2 separate regions of the Homo sapiens genome follow, and region 1 is linked to region 2. Evidence: fine-mapped expression QTL. Tissue or cell type: monocytes after R848. Region 2 holds a variant in brackets; the other region holds the start of a gene. All regions are shown on one strand. Distances are between the middles of the regions.

The links. PIP is the estimated chance that this variant, and not a neighbour inherited with it, causes the effect.
Region 1: it holds the start of F10, and the variant in region 2 is fine-mapped to the expression of F10 in monocytes after R848 (Quach 2016, PIP 0.95). The same link has a PIP of 0.9 or more in monocytes, monocytes after LPS and monocytes after Pam3CSK4.

Annotation. Positions count from the first base shown.
Region 1 is chr13:113,117,964-113,126,230 of GRCh38, reverse strand. F10 (coagulation factor X) reads right to left here and starts at 3,432. Exons shown (of 8, transcript NM_000504.4): 1 at 3,306-3,432. The coding sequence starts at 3,375. F7 (coagulation factor VII) reads right to left here. Exons shown (of 8, transcript NM_019616.4): 8 at 5,546-7,818. The coding sequence ends at 7,223.
Region 2 is chr13:113,192,892-113,201,158 of GRCh38, reverse strand. PCID2 (PCI domain containing 2) reads left to right here. Exons shown (of 14, transcript NM_001127202.4): 2 at 643-732; 3 at 2,895-2,968; 4 at 3,916-3,981; 5 at 4,937-4,978; 6 at 6,034-6,088. Among named protein-coding and RNA genes, the nearest start is that of PCID2, 12 kb to the left of the region's middle. The variant T/C (reference allele first, on the strand shown) is at 3,191.

The DNA.
Region 1 (8,267 bases), 75 kb after region 2:
TGATGCAAGGAAGTCAAGGACTACCCAGAATCTGCCTCTAGTGGTCTTAGAACAGAGCCCAGGGTCTTCCCATGGCCAGGCCTCCCAGGCCTCACCACCTTCAACTCTGCCCTCATTCACCTCTCTCTGCCACACTGGGCTCTGCGCTGACCCTGGCTGAGCCCAACACTCACACCCCAGGACTTTTGCACCAGTCACCTCCCTGTCTGGAACATTCTTTCCACAGATACCCAAGTGGCTCAGGCCCAGCGCCCTCCGAGACACCCTCCCTGACCACGCCCTCTGACGTTGCCCCCACTCGTGTCTCTTTCATCCCCTTACACTGTGCTATTTGTCTTCTAGCACCCAACCCCTCTCTGACATTACATGCTGACAGGCTTATCCTTCCCTCCGCTGGAAAAAGACTTGACGTGTTTGGTCACAGCTGTATGCCCGTGCCTAGCACGGCCGGAACTTAACCAATATGTGTTGAGGGAATGAAGGAAAGATGGCGTGCCTGGCTCAGCCCTCTGGACTGAATCTGGGCGCTTCTGCTATCTGTTATGGCTGAGTCGCATCAACGCTTCAGTCAGACTGAGCAGGCCGGGTCTGGGCCACGTGGCCACACTTTCTGATGTGAGTAAAATGGGATTTTGGCAAAACGAAATTAAAACAAGGTTTTTAGGCACTTGTCTCAAGAAATTAATGGAACACTCTAGAACTCTGATATGGAGCATCCAGATTGGTAGACATTTGTCGTGTGGTTTGTTTCTTCAGAAGCTGTTGGGAGCATTGCAATCCTCGAGCACACAGTTGTGTTTGTTGTTTTGGCAACATCAGTGAATTCCACAGTCAGCAACTGCATTTGAGCAAGTTTTACCAGCAAGCAAAATTTTCAGTCAGTAAGGTCCAAACTCATGAAGAATGGGTTTAAACTTGTTGAATGTAAAGATTGAAACTGAAGCCACGTAGCTTTAATGATTGCCAGTACAACAGCAGTAGTTTAAAGGCTGGCACTGCAGGTGCTCTGCGTATTCTGATTTTATTAAAATAAAAAGTTGGATTGCAGAAAACACTCACAGGTGGCAGGACAGGGCTGAATAATGTCCCTCCAAATTCATGTCTTTCCCAGAACCTCAGAACCTGACCTTAATTGGAAATAGAACTTTTGTGATGTATTTAGTTAGGAAGACATTTTATGGGAGTAGAGTGAGCCCTAAATCCAATGACTGGTGTCCTTCTGAGAGAAAAGAAGACAGAAAAACAGCCATGGTGAGAACCCCATGCGATGATGGAGGCAGCGATGGGAGCAATGCTCCCACAAGCCATGGGCTGTGAGGCCGCTGGCACCCCGAGGCCAGGAAACAGGCCTAGAGCAGACTCTCTCCCAGCCTCTGGAGGAACCAGCCCCGCTGACGCCTTGATTTTGAACTTCCAGCCTCCAGAGCTGTGGGAGAAATGTTTCTGTTGCTTTAAGCTACTTGGTCCATTGTCCTTTCTTGTAGCAGTACCAGCAAAGGAATGCTGAGGTCCCACCGCCCCAGAAGAACTTCCGTGACTGCCAGGACAGCTGTGCTCGTTTAAAGGCTAGACTGCAGATGCTGTGCGCATTCTGATTTTATTAAAATCAAAAGTGTGCACAGCAGGGTCCTGAGTGGGACCTTCTGGGACCTGTGTTCAGCCCCACCCACCCCACAGTGCAGCTGCCGAGGCCTCTGAGGCAGAGTAGGGGAGAGAGATGGCCTGGCCCTGGCTCTCCGGGGCTGGCCATGTCCACCCAGGGTCCAGGCCGGCCCCCGGGGACACCACAGGCCATGGTTATGAGCCAGGCCCGCATCACACAGCTAAGGGTGCCAATACCCTGTGGACCCAGAGGTCCGCGAGGTGGGCGCCTGCATTTCCCATTGGCAGGAAGGGAAGCTGGCGCTCCACCAGGACTCTGCATAACTCCCCTAGTTTCCTCCTGTGGGTCTGGGTGGGCTCCTGGCCTGTCTTCTCATCCCCACCCTCTGCTTCTTCCCAGGAAGAGGAGTCCTGCCAACTTCCATTCCCAATAAGCCAGAGCAGCTTCCAGAGTCCCGGGCCGGGCTTAGGGCCTCGGGAGCCCCGGGCCGGGCTTAGGGCCTCAGGATCCTAGAGCATTCCGGCTGCAGAATTTTCTACCAATTCGCGGAAGCATCTGTCTGTTTGCAGAGTAGCTTTGCTGTCGATGATGATGGCATGGGTCCTTCCAGGGCCTTGTTCCACCCACGCTGATCTCATCCCACCACAAGCATCACAGTGGGCTCCTGCAGGGGGCAGTGTGGCCTGAGGGGGAGGAAGAAGGCTGGGCGAGTTGGAGCCACACAGTACCCCATGAAGACGGGAGTCCCGTTCCGCGTGGGAGACAGGAAGATGTGGCTCAGGGGACAGAGGCTGGGGAGGGCAGGGGGTTGAGGGTGGGATGGAGAAGACCCCCGTGTGATGTGACTGGAGCTCCAAGTCACCAGGCGGAGGGGCCGTTTAGGTCAGTGATGCACTGAGGATCCACTCAGCCTTCCCAGGGGTCTCCCCTTTCCACCCCACGAGGGTCTCCCCCTGCTCCGTCTCTCCCTCACACATTCCCTTCCCAGGCCTGGGTCCCCTTGGTGCCCCTGCCTGTCCACTTTGTCCAGGATGCAAACAAGTCTAGGGTCCCTGTCTCTCGTGTCCCCACCAGAGGGGCCTCCTCTTCCTCCGCTGTCCCCAGGCTTGCCTGGCTTCTGTCCTGTCTGGGCCTCTGCTTTTGGACAGACCCGGGGGTCCTGGACAGCCCTGCTGCCCCCACCTGTCCAGCTGTGCATTAGGCAGCTCCTTCCCCGACGGAGCCAGTCCGAGAGTGGTGGCACTGGCTCGGCTCAGCCTCCTCCTCCCTGGGAGCTCCTCTGCTGTGCCCCTCGTCCTGTGCCTCCCTGTGGTGGCAGATGGCTAACTGTCCTGTCTCTGCCTGCCCCAACCCCTCCCTCTCTCTCTGTCTCCGTCTTTCTACCTCTGTCTCTGCCTCTTGGCCTCCCATCTCACTGTGTCTCCGTTTCTCCTTCCCTCTCCCTTTCTCTCTCTGACTCTGTCCTTGTGTTTTTGTCTCTGTGACCTCTGATCCGCCCGTCTGACTCTCAGCCCCAGGGAGCCACAGCTGGCCTTGAGGATGCCGTTGGCTGGAAAGGCCAAGCCCAGCCATCCGAGCCCAGCCTCTGGCAGCACTCAAGGCACCCACCGTCCAGGCTGCAGAGATGAGAGGGTTTCCCCAACTGCCGCCCCTCCCTGCTCCCTGGCGCTGCTTTTGGGTCTGAAGGGCGAGGGGCACTTACGACTTTCCCCGAGCAGCAGGAGGCCAGCCAGGGAGGCACTGAGCAGGACGAGGTGCAGTGGGCGCCCCATGGTGTGGCCGAGTACTGTGTCCCTGTCCTCACTGGGACAGGCTGCTGGAGCAAAGTCCACGCCCCAGCTGGGATGGCTGTTGTCTGGCTGCTTATCACTTGGCTTAGGCCTCCTGATTGGAGCCGAGACCTGCTGGCGAGGCAGGGGAGTGACCACGCTGGGAACACATCCACTCTGGCCCCACCTTCCCCAGGCAGAGCTGGGCGGCCAGAGAGGCCCCGCAGAACCTCATCCTCATCAGTCACCAGGGCCGCGGGTGTGGGGACTTTCTGTTCTAAGAATAAAAACATCATTTCGTGCTCATTTTGTAGTTTCCAGATGTTTACATTTAACTCTCAGTCCTCACATACAAATATCATTTTCCCCATCATTTTTCCAGAAGAGAAAACTAAGTTTAGAGAGCGCAGAAGCCTGAGCCGAGGCCGCTGGCAGTGAGCGTGGGATCTGAGCCCAGGACTTCTGCCCCAAGGCCCTGCTTGTTTCTGGGCGGGCCCTTCCGCTCACAGCCACTCTCTGGGTGGTATCAGGTGGTCTCATGTCACGGGGGGGGCTTGGCATCTGCACCATGGCCTCCCACAGGCCAGGCTGGCACCTGCCCCACCCACCCCCAAACCTTCTGTGCCCGCATGGCCCCAAAACGTACTTCTGTGGGGAGTGACCTTCCCGTGACCATCTGGAGGGACAGGCTGTGTCTGAAGCCCCTCCTGACCTGCCCACCACTGGCCACACTGTTCCGAGGCTGAGAGGGCTTCTGGGCTCGTTCTCCAGTGCAGAAACCTCCCATCACAAGGTCCTGAGTGTCTCTGCTCAATGGCTGTGGGAGTCACTGGGAGGTGCAGCCGGGCTTTTTGCCTCTGGGGTCTCTGGAATAAATGGTCTAAAGCTTGGCCAGTGTGGCGATCACTGCCTGCTATGCCGTAGTGGCCGGGGAGCAATGCCCCTAACACCCACAGCACTGGCCACTGCCTCATGGTGCATCTGCCTTGATGGGTCGCCCTGTCTCGCAGCCACCTGCACATGAGCCTGGTGTGCACACATTGTGCGTCATTGTGCCTGGCACACAGGAGGCACTCACTGAGCCCCACCCGACTGCACAAACTGATGATGCTGGATGCCAACGCCAGGCTGGCCTCCCACGGCGGGCACCACGCACAGCCTGGTCCTCTGAGAAGGGCCTTCCTGGTGGCACCAGATGTCTGACTCCTGCCTCTCCTGGTCTCCACCCTCTGACATCGCCTCTAGGCATGTTTGTATGGAGAGACCAATGCGGTGTGTGCACCAACAGCAGGATGCTCATGGCAGACACGCAGTCTTTGTCATCAATGCTGGGTGGCGATGCTGGCTTTGGTGGCCCAAGCCTGCCGCCTCATCCCACCCTGTCCCAGGCCCATGGCCAGTGGCCTCCCCGTATTCTATCTCGCCACTCACAGAAAGCTGGAGCTGAGCCGTGGCAGGTGGCACGTCCCATATGAAACATGTAGCCTTTGGGGGCGCCCAGGCCCTTCAGCGAAGCCTCTGGGGAGTCCCGGGCCCCCTCCTCCGGCAGCACCATGAGGTGGGCGCCTGCATTTCCCATTGGCAGGAAGGGAGGCTGGCGCTCCACCAGGACCCCGCATGACTCCCCTAGTTTCCTCCTGTGGGTCTGGGTGGGCTCCTGAACTGTCCTCTCATCCCCACCCTCCGCTTCTTCCCAGGAAGAGTCCTGCCAACTTCCACTCCCAAGAAGTCAGAGTGGCTTCCAGAACCCTGGGCTGGGCTTAGGCCCTCAGGAGCCCCGGGCATTCTGGTTGCAGAATTTTCTACCAATTCACTGAAGCATCTGTCTGCAGAGTGGCTTTGCTGTCGATGACCATGGCATGGGCCCTTCCAGGGCCTTGTTCCATCCATGCTGATCTCATCCCACCATAAGCATCACGGTGGGCTCCTGTTTTACACATGAGGAAACTGAGGCATGGTCACTCGGACAAAAGAGAAAGCAGAGCCAGCTCTGACCTGGATCAGGGCCCGCCACTGGCTCCCGTCCCGTTTAGGGGGCATTAGGAACCGGGGTCTGGCCAGGGTCAGCAAGCATCTTCAGCAGAGGTCCTGACACTAACCATGCTGGGCTTGGCGGGTCAGCTGGTCTGTCCGGCTGGACGTCTCTGCCACGGCCACTCCATGGACACTAATATGGGTGTGTTCCCATAAAACTTTATTTACAAGAGCAGGGTGCCTTGGAAGCAGCCCACGGCTGTAGTTCATAGACCCTGTCTGCTCTGAAGTAGATGATGCCTGAGTGCCCCCGAGGTGGGTTGCTGGTGCCTGCCTTGCTGCTGTGAGTGCCAATGGTGCCCACCTTGCTGCTGTGAGTGCCAGTGGTGCCCAGGACGGCCCTGCAGGGATGGCATCGAGTCCACTCTCTGAGCCGTGCTTGCCGGAGTCTGAGTGGGGGCACTGTTTGTCACCTCCCCATTTCTCTGTTCATGTGTTTCTCATTCTTCTTCCACCACCCTGGGGACTCAGCAAGAGTGCAGCTTGCCAGGTCCTCCCACTGCAGCCAGGGCCTGGGAACTTGCATTTAGTGATGCGTGTGTCCCTGACTCTTGAGCAGGTGCTCCCAGGGTCTCTGTGAAATATCATTGACAAGGGCTGTGGCAGGGAGAGAACATCCAATTCCACAGGATCCTGGGAGCTACAGCCTCAAACATCTATCAAACAGCTTTTGTTTTTAAAAAATAGCTTCCATGTGAGGGTTCATTTCAGTGATGTTGAAAATTGTGAAAGAAAAGAGCATCTCAGAGGATGAGCACCGGGGGCTCCAAAAATGAATCATGGGCAACCCAGTGGGTGGCAGGCACCACAGGTGTGCGGAGGAGACGCAGCCGTTTATTGTGAAGCTGGGAAGCAGGTGGGGAATAGTCTGTGCAGCCCGGCACCCAGCGAAGGGAGAAATACATTTGGGGGAGAGTTTGGGGGCATTCGCCACCATGCATGGTGATGCTTCTGAATTGTCTGAAGTGAAGATGATAATGGATAAGAACCAGAAAAGTGAGAGCTAAACAACCGCCTTCAGAGGACAGCACACATGGAGTCAGCATCGGTGTGTGTGCATCTGTGTGTGCATCTGTGTGTGTACATCGGTGTGTGTGCGCATTGGTGTGTGTGTGCTCATCCATGTGTGTGCATATCTGTGTGTGCGCACATCGGTGTGTGCATATCTCTGTGCATCCGTGTGCACTGATGTGTGCGTGCATTGGCATGTGCGTGCATCCATGTGTATATCTGTGTGTGCATCTGTGTGTGCATATCTCTATGTGCGTGTGCATCGGTGTGTTTGCGTATCTCTGTGTGACCATCTGTGTGTGCATCCGTGTGTGTGCATATCTCTGTGTGTGTGCATTGGCGTGTGTGTGTGTGCATCCATGTGTGTTCATGCCTCTACTGTCTCCAGCAATGAAGGCAGAGCAGCAGCCTGAGGCCAGCAGATCACGTGCAGGTGGGCTTGGCTGAAGGGAGGTAAGGAGGCTCAGCTGGGCTGTCTGCCTCCAGGACAACCTTGGCACTCCCCTGCCCCTCTGTCCAGCGCCTGTCTGCCTCTGCCTCTCATCTTTTCTATTCCATCTCTGTGTCTCTATTAGTCTCTTTGAATCTTGGAGTCTCTTTGAGTCTCTCTCCATGTCCTCAGAGTCTCTCCCTCAGTCTCTCTCTGTCTCTGTCTCTCTCTGTTTCTGTCTCTGTCTCCCTCCCCACCTCTCCCTCCCTCCCATGCCCTCCTCTACCCCATTAACTGCAGAAGAATATATGGGATTTGGTGCCAGGACAGTTCGACGCAGCCTTGGCTTTCTCTCCACAGGCCAGGGCTGCTGGGCTAGGGAAATGGGGCTCGCAGGAGGACTCCTGGGCGTGGCTCTGAGCGCATGAGCTTTTGCAGCCACTCGATGTACTGGGAGACCCTGGTGTACACCCCAAAGTGGCCCACGGTTGCGCAGCCCTGGCCCCAGCTGACGATGCCCGTCAGGTACCACGTGCCCCGGTAGTGGGTGGCATGTGGGCCTCCACTGTCCCCCTTGCAGGAGTCCTTGCTGCCATCCGAGTAGCCGGCACAGAACATGTACTCCGTGATATTTGGGGAGTCTCCCACCTTCCGTGACTGCTGCAGGCAGTCCTGGGTCATCAGCCGGGGCACGTTGAGGACCATGAGCTCCAGGGCCGTGGCGCCACGGTCCAGCAGCTGGCCCCAGCCGCTGACCAATGAGAAGCGCACGAAGGCCAGCGTCCTCTCAGAGAACGTCCGTTCGGGCAGGCAGAGGGGCACCACATGGTCAGTGAGGACCACGGGCTGGTGCAGGCGGAGCAGCGCGATGTCGTGGTTGGTGGTGCCCGGGACGTACGTGCTGGGGATGATGACCTGCGCCACCCGCCGGCTCTGCTCATCCCCGTCGTGCTCGCTGAGGTCGTGCTCGCCTGGAAGGAAGAAGCCCCCCTCAGGCCCTTTCCACCACCTGCCACCTCACCCCCTGGTGCATGGGGATGGGCTGTGGCCATTTCTAGGTCTGCAGGGGCTGCAGTCTCCTTCTGGGGCAAGGGGACCTGCATCTAACCCCAAGGTGGGGCCAGCCTGCCCCAGGTGGCAGCCTGTGGCTCGTGTGGGGACAAGTGAACTGGGGTGAATCTGGGGTCTGGGTGTTGAGGTGGGGAAGGGATGCTGTGCCCTGGCAGCTGGGAGGACAGGGCGTGCCCCGATTCTCCACAGTTCTTCCCGGCCCAGTGGCCCTCCTGGGAGTGCTCGTCTCACCCATAAACCCAGTGAGCAGAACCCCTGCCAGCCGGTGGTCCCATGAGGCCCTGGGTGTCGCATCCTCTTCTGGGCTCTTGGTCAAGTGAGGCAGGATGGGCAGAAGCCCCCAGTCTTT
Region 2 (8,267 bases):
TCCTTTTATTTTATATTAAGGTTGAGTGGAAGCTTTTTGAATTTTGGATATATGTGGTTTTTAAACTGATTTCTTTTTCATAAGCTGTATATTTGGATTTTCAAACATATATTAGTGTGATTGAGTAAAATTAGAATAATTCATCTTCATGAAGAGCTACATGATAAACCACTGACTTATTTTTATTTGCTTAACCTGTTTTTTTGCTTCAGGAACATCTGTTTTTGTTTTTTTGGTCTGTTTTAAAGAGACGGGTCTTGCTATGTTGTCCAGGATGGTCTCGAACTCCTGGCTCAAGCAGTCCTTCCTCAGCCTCACAAAGTGCTGGGATTACAGGCCTGAGCCAGCCAGGAACAACCTATTTTGAAATGAAATTATTGTTTACGATTGCGCCACTGCAGTCCGCAGTCCGACCTGGGCGACAGAGCGAGACTCCGTCTCAAAAAAAAAAAAAAAAAAAAAGAAATTATTGTTTACCCACTGCAGAGAGTAGTGACCATCTGTTACATTTTGATTGTTCTGTCTTCTTTCAAAGTAGGGGAAAATGAATTTTCCCCTGTGTGGCATTCAGTGTATTGTTGTAGGTTCTATTCGAACAGAATATTTTATTTTCTACTTAGGTTTCCCTTTCAAATGTTTCAGGTGTACGAAGCCATCGACAGCAGAGATGGAGCATCTTGTGCAGAGTTGGTGTCTTTTAAACATCCTCATGTTGCAAACCCACGACTTCAAGTAGGTGAAAGAGCTGTGCACACAGGTGTCTGCAGACAATTACAGGGTAACCACTTTCCTAAGAGAAGCGTAGAGTTTGAGTAAGAAGAAAACTAATATTGTCACTCTTATTTGAAAATTTTAAAGTTTCTTTATGATTTATGTAATTTCAATCCATTTGTGGAGCACTGACTATGTACGCACACTGTGGTGATGTGGACCTCCTGCCCTTGTGTTTGATTCCTAGACAGCTCTCTGAGGTTTAGAGAAGTTAGATGGTGGAGAGGCGGTGGAGCTTAGATTCTGTCTAGGCCTGTGCGTCCCCAAAGCCCCATAGACGTCATGTACCACAGGTGTCTCCCATTTAAGTTGTTAGTCAGAAAGGCTGGCAAGCCAAGGCCCAGCCTGGGGTTGTACATGGAGTTTCCATGTCATCTGTGGCGTAGATGATGTTGAGGCAGTATTTTCTATAGAAAATCTTGTGGACATTTGGTAAAGCCCTGTTTCCTCATTGACACCCTTTATCATATTGGAGTGTGTTCCTACTGGAAGCAGCATTTTTCTTTTGGAAGAAAAATGGGCTTATCTATTGGTGATTATGTTTGGCGGTGTACAGACTTGCAACTCAGACCAGGTAAATCAGTCTCTGAAGTAGCAGCAGGCCTGTTTTTGTTTTTCTAATAAAGTTACCTAGGTGATTCTATGTGTAGACAGTGTTGAAAACCATTGCTCTAAGTAGGAGTTAGTGCTAGAGACTCGATGAGACTCAGGCTTGCCTTGGCCAGAACACCCCATGGCTGGTGCCCTGTGCTTTGTATTGTATGACATGAGAGGACACACACTGTCCTGTTTGCAATCTGAGACAGATCCCTTCATTGTAAAATTCCCCAGTAAACTTTCTTTCGGTGGTTTCATTCACCAGGGACTGTAGAATGGTGATTTTTCTGATACTGTCATTCTTCTCTCTCACCATATCAGCATGGGCTCATTGCTTTTGTAAACAAAACCAAACAAAACAAAAAAACGCAGTGTGCTTATAATCCATTGTGTGTTAGTCTGGGTTCTCCAGAGAAACAGAGCCAGTGGGATATATCAATATTTATAGAGATTTAGTATGAGGAACTGGGTCCTGTGATTGTAGAGGTCAAGAAATCCCACACAAGGAGTGAATTCTTTCTTCCTCGACCTCTTGTTCTATTCAAGCCCTCATCAGATTGGCCATTGCCCGTCCACACTGAGGAGGGCCATCTACTTTCCTGAGTCTACTAGTGCAACTGCCAGTCTCATCCAGAAACACCCTCACAGACACTCCCAGAAATAACATTGTCTGGGGACTCCACAGCTAGTCAAGTTGGCAAAATTAACCATCACCTGTTGAGATGTTCAGATTATCTAAAATTTGACTGTTAGGAGGAAAGGAAAACTTAGAAAGAAATGTCAGCTAGACTAGCCCAGGAGATGAGACTGGTGGTCTCAGCAGGAAGCCGAGAAGAACGAGTCCTAACATAGCACCATCTGTAACTCATTAGACCTCACTTACTAAACCTATGACAGTTACTTAACAAGTATTTCTTGACTGACTGGTCAAGAATACTAATATACTGAAATGTATATGAAAGTGCCTAGAATATTTTCTGACTTGCAGAAGGCGAGACCAAATTATATTCATGGGCTTCTTTTTCCCCTGAAATATTGATAAATATTTGTTGAAGTAATGAACCATTTATTTATTTATTTATTTATGAGACAGAGTCTCCCTCTGTCACCCAGGCTGTAGTGCAGTGGCACGATCTTGGCTTACTACAACCTCCCCCACCCATGTTCAAGCGATTCTCATGCCTCAGCCTCCTGAGTAGCTGGGATTACCAGCGTGTACCACCACATCCAGCTAATTTTTGTAATTTTTTTTGTAGAGACGGGCTTTCACCATGTTGGCCAGGCTGGTCTTGAACTTCTAGCCTCAAGTGATCTGCCCACCTCGCCCTCCCAAAGTGCTGGGATTACAGGCATGAGCCACTGTGCTCACGGCCTGAACCTTTTATTTAGAGTGGTAAATATAAAGTGTTACTGTGAACTGTAAAGCATAAATTCTCTTGAAACAGAGGTTTAAATCTCTTTCTATATGTTGCATTCTTTCTGTGCCTATTAATTTTACTTTTGCTATTTTTCTTTTTTAAAATCAGATGGCCTCTCCAGAGGAGAAGTGTCAACAAGTCTTGGAACCCCCTTATGATGAAATGTTTGCAGCTCATTTAAGGTAATCTGTTGGGGAGGAAGAAAAACACACACATCTGGAAATTGCTGAATTAACTGGGGATTTTATCTTGCATTATCTTGTGCTTGAAGCAGTGAATAACTGACTTTGAAAAAGTGGGAAAATGCATTTGTAACTTCAGTTTGGTAAAGCCTGTGGAAATTGTAAACATCAGTTATATAATACTATTTTTAACATCACACAGTATTTAGCAGAGTGCCTGCT[T/C]AGTGGTCTTTTTAGTAGAGTTTGGAGCCGAACTGTTCACTTACCCTTTTCGTGGAAATATGTCTGTTTTTGAAGCTCTTTACGTTACTGGGAAAGAAATTAGAGTTGAGCAAAGCAAACAATGCTACTTTTTATGTACACTTCATATCTACTGTTTTATCTCTAAAGGATCAGTTCAGGCAGAAGATTGTGTCCTTATAGCCATGTGAGATTTGATTACTGTCTTTCAGAGCAGCCTGGGCTACAGGACCAGTGTGGGGTCTGTGAGCAGGAATGTTCTGTGAACCCCACAGGGTCTTTGGAAGAGTTGGGGCACCACCGTGTTCCTTGTAGTACAAAGCACCTGTGATTTCCTAGCTCTGTGCAGTGTGCGATAGGTTCCAGATTTGGCGATGAACTAACACTGACATTACCCAGCTGGGAATCTAGTTTGAATGTCATTGTCAGCCCCTGCTAGAGTGGAAGGGTCATACTATGTTATCAACATGTGTTACTCATAAACCTGCTGGTGCTAGGTCCTTCTGGGACTTGAAAGAGTAGTCTCCAAGCTTACTGTGGGACTTCCTCTTATCCTCACCTGTTTGTGTTCAGCCATTTGTGTGTTTCTTCCTTCACTCCTTTCATCCCAGGACCACTGGGACCTGTGCAATGAAGTGAGCTGTGTGGGCTGCATAACTAGTGCTAGGTTTTTATTGTGTGACAGCATGTTTCTGTTTCTCCTCCAGGTGCACTTATGCAGTGGGGAATCATGACTTCATAGAGGCATACAAGTGCCAGACCGTGATAGTCCAATATCCTTTGTCGTTCATGGCAGCTGTCCCGCATAGAACACATGCAGTGGATTACTTGGGACTTGAGACCCGGAAACACTGGGCCAGTTGCTCATTTCTGCAGTTAGAAAGGAATGACAGTGTTTTGGAACAGAAGCTCGTTTCAGCTCTTTCACTTGGGTACTTAAATTTAGCATGGATCTGAAGACTCGTGCAGTACTTAGTAAGGAAGAACACTGGTTAGGAAGAAGGATCTTACTCTGCTGAGAAGAAGAATGCTTTGTTGCCTTTAGTAAGGTAGTAAGTATATTTACAGGGACTGGTTAAGTCCTGTTGGTGAAATACCAGAAATCCAGAATTCAGGCAGAGATGGACAAGAGTGGCCTCAGATGTACATCGGCATTGAATTGTGGCAGCTGAAGACCTTAAATCAAACCAATTCATACTTCAGTCATTTAAAGGGTATCTTTAGTTACGGCCTGAGTCAGTGAGTGTGCTAAGGATTTGTATGTATCTCTAGATTTTGTCTTTTCGTTTTAACCACCTTGTTTAAATATACACAGAAGAGAGTTGGGCTATTTGCTCACAGCCTCCTTAGAATTCAAGAATTCTAGAGTTGATAAAATCAGCCTTATGCTACAGATTCTAAAGCACTTAAATATAACTCATGATCATCTGGGCTCAGAGAAACCAAATAAAATGTCAGAAAGGGCTGATTTTAAAAAATCTTGTAAGTCTTTTTTATTTAGGAGACAGTGTGTATGAAATAAGTGTATTTAGTATACTTGAGCCTAATGAGATACAGATATTTGTAATGTGAGCTTATACCTTTTTTCCTTCAAGAACTTACTATTGTTGCAACATAAATCTGCTCAAGGGTGATCTACATTCCTTAAAATTTAGATTCTTATTCTTTACTTTTATCGTACGTAGCATTATTTGAACTTTGTATGCCATATCTTCCTTAATACAGTACATCATTCTTGCGAGCATTCCAGGCCCACAAAGAAGAAAACTGGTAAGTGTGAACAGAAACAGCTGAATTAGCAAATGGCAATTTTTTTAGCAGAATCTTTTTACAAATTTGCTTTAAATAAATGTGTATTGTATTTTCCATGTGGATATTTGGTAATCAGTGTGTTGACATATGGTAATATCTACACAGATGAGTGGAGTCACAAATCTAGTAAACTGAAATGGTAGATCAGCCACATTGTTTGCAGTGTGTCTATGTCAATATAGTATTATTTTTATTTCAGATGTCCATTTCCCTAGATATTTATTAAATACTGTTTTTTCCTTCAGTTGTCAATTTTGAACTTTTGGTTTTAAACCTTAGATAAAAGAGGTAGACCAACTACGGTTCATTTGGGGTGTTCTAATACATAATAATGGTGGTATTTTTAAATGCCTTGCCAAACTAAATTTTATGATTTATTAACAAACTATAGGTTAATACTGAAATTTGTTTATACTGAAATAACCAAAGGCCTTTTGCAAACAAACCCGCCCTTTTATCTTTTTTTTTTTTTGAGAAGGAGTCTTGCTCAGTCGCCGAGGCTGGAGTGCAGTGGCGCAGTCTTGGCTCACTGCAGCCTCTGCCTCCCGCCACCCTTTTATCTTTTAACGTGAAAACTTGCACATGAAAACAGTCCAGTTTTGCCAGTTGGCTGTAAAAGTTGTTTTGTGACATTTTGTGTATTACATATTCTGGTTCCTGTTAGGAAATCTGATCAAACCACTTCTTTTTTAGTGGTGCTGTTTGGATACTGGTGGGAAGCTGAGGGGAGGAGGATATCCTGGGAGCCCAGAACTGAAGCAGGGCTGAGGTCTCTGACAGGGTTGGGGACAGGGGTGTGGAGCACCGCATTGTGGGGCCCCAGGATGATCAGGAAGTCTGAGGCCTGCAGCCTGCCTGGACAGAAGGTGAGGAAGCAGACAACTGTCAGAGTTTTGGATAAGTGCGGACTCCATTCTGGATAGTAGCCCTGGGTGTCCGTGTTCTTCCCACCTCTGGGGATGGAATCTTGGCCCACGTAGCCCCTCACACTTGTTTACTTTTTTGCCCTGCAGGGCTCTGCCTGTCATGTATGCAGTAGCGCTTGACCTTCGAGTGTTTGCCAATAATGTAAGTTTAATTTGCTGTCATTATTATTTTAAAACTAAAACTTGGTGACTATCTGTTGTTTAATTTCATGTCATTCTTCCCAGAAGTTTTGAGGAGCAAATTGGAGTTGAGATGTGTCTGGTATAGGGAGCAAAAGAAAGATATTGACTATTCTTTCTGGGTTAACACCAACAGATTTATATAAACATTTGCTCAGATTTCCACACTGTTCATATAGAGGGAGAGGTTCCATTTTGTGGTTAACCATTTATGGTATGTGTTATTTTTATGAAGTGAGTGGAACAACAACAAATGAGCTTATTCTGCATCTCTTCTACCTTTAAGATGTGGCCTGCTCCCCCACCAAAAAGAATTCAGCTTCATATAGATTTGGGCAGTAGGAGGGGGCTTCCCTGGGGTGAAGGGAGATCCTGGGTTTTATGGAGGCGACGTCCCCATGGGGACCCACGGAAGTCCCCATTATGGAGCAGCATTTGTCAACCTTTTGGTTTTAGGACGACCCCTTTACAGTTTTAGAAATGATTGTTGACTTCAGTTCCAGTCAGGATGCAATGGATTTCACCCTATTGTGCCTGCTAGAAACAGTTAAAACCCTGGGAGTTGTCAGGCCGGCATGGCTATGGGAGGTGGAGAGAAGAGGGGGATGGGGCTCAGAGTCACGTGTAGGGAGTCTCCAGGTTTCCTTTTTGTCTCCTGTCTGTCCTGGACTGGGCGCGTTAGAAACCTGAAGCCTTTCACCATCAGGCAGAGACAAAAAGCCCCAAGGAAACCAGGAGGCTGGGAAGACAGTCCAATCCAGCAAGACAGAACTCTGACCGTCACTGCCTCACTCCAGTGCCAGGCGCAAAGAAGTCAGCAGGTCCGTCCCACCCCATCTGCAAAGTGGTGCGGACTGGGGGTGGCCCAGGACCTCCACCCTGGGCTAGCAGTAATGAGGAGCTAGTCCCCCTCCCCACCAGGTGGATGTCAGAGGCTAAGCAGGGGACCTAGACCTCCCCGACTCAGTGGCTAAGGGGATGCACCTGTTTCTCTGCTTGCATGGTGAGGCCTGCTAAACAAGATAAATAAAGTCCATAGTCTCGTCAGGTAGTGCCTCAAATGTCCGGGATCTAATCGACACTGATTACCAGGAAAATCTCAACTTTCAGAGATTTCAAATGAGAAAAAACATTCAGCAGAAGACACCAAGGCTGAGATTGTACAAATGTTGGAATTATGTGACAAGAGTTTTAAACAGCCCTCTTGATTCAGCAAGCAATTTAGAACATGCTTGAAACAAATGAAAACATTTAAAGTCTCAACAAGGAAATAGGCGATATAAAGAAGAACCAAATGGAAATTTTAGAACTGAAAAGTATACTGAAGACCTCAGAAAGCTTTTATTTTTGTTATATCTATTTATATTTACTGTATTAGAAATTTTAATTAGAAAAGATTTTAAAATATTCATTTTAAAGCAACAATAATAAACCTTTTACATGTAACATAACTGACTTTTTAAATAAAAAATAACTATATTTCCAAAACAAAATACTAAGAAAAGTAGTGTCACATCACTTTTGACCTCTTTGATGTCTAGTTCAGCAGAGGCAATCTGGTCCCCTTGCCTGCTTCTGCACTTACTCTGTTGCAGTACACTGTTTTGAGTAAAGTGTTTCTCTGCCTGATGGTGAAAGGCTACATCACAAAGTTGTAGATGGAAAAGAGAGGAATATTCTCATAGGCTTTCCAGACCATTGAGATAATTCTTTGACTCTATATAGGAAAACTCCAAGAGGCAGTTTTTTTTTTTTAAAAAGGTTAGTTACAATGTGGCTTCTGAAGTGTACCAATAAACTTTTTCTACCTTTACACTGAAATCCACTGGTCTGCCTAAAGCACTGAATGGATTTCGTAATATCTTGTGTTAGTCATGTCTTAGTCCATTTGGGCTGCTATAAGAAAATACTATAAACTGGGTTGGCTTGTAACCAACAAGCATTTATGTCTCATAGTTCTGGAGGCAGGGAGGTCCAGATCAAGTCAGGGAGGTCCAGATCAAGTCAGGCAGGGAGGTCCAGATCAAGTTGAGTTTCTGATGAAGAGGGCCGCTTCCTGGCTCATAGCATCTTGCTGTGTCTGCACATGGTAGATGGGGCAAGGGATCTCTCTTTCCCATTCATGACAGCTTCACCTTCAT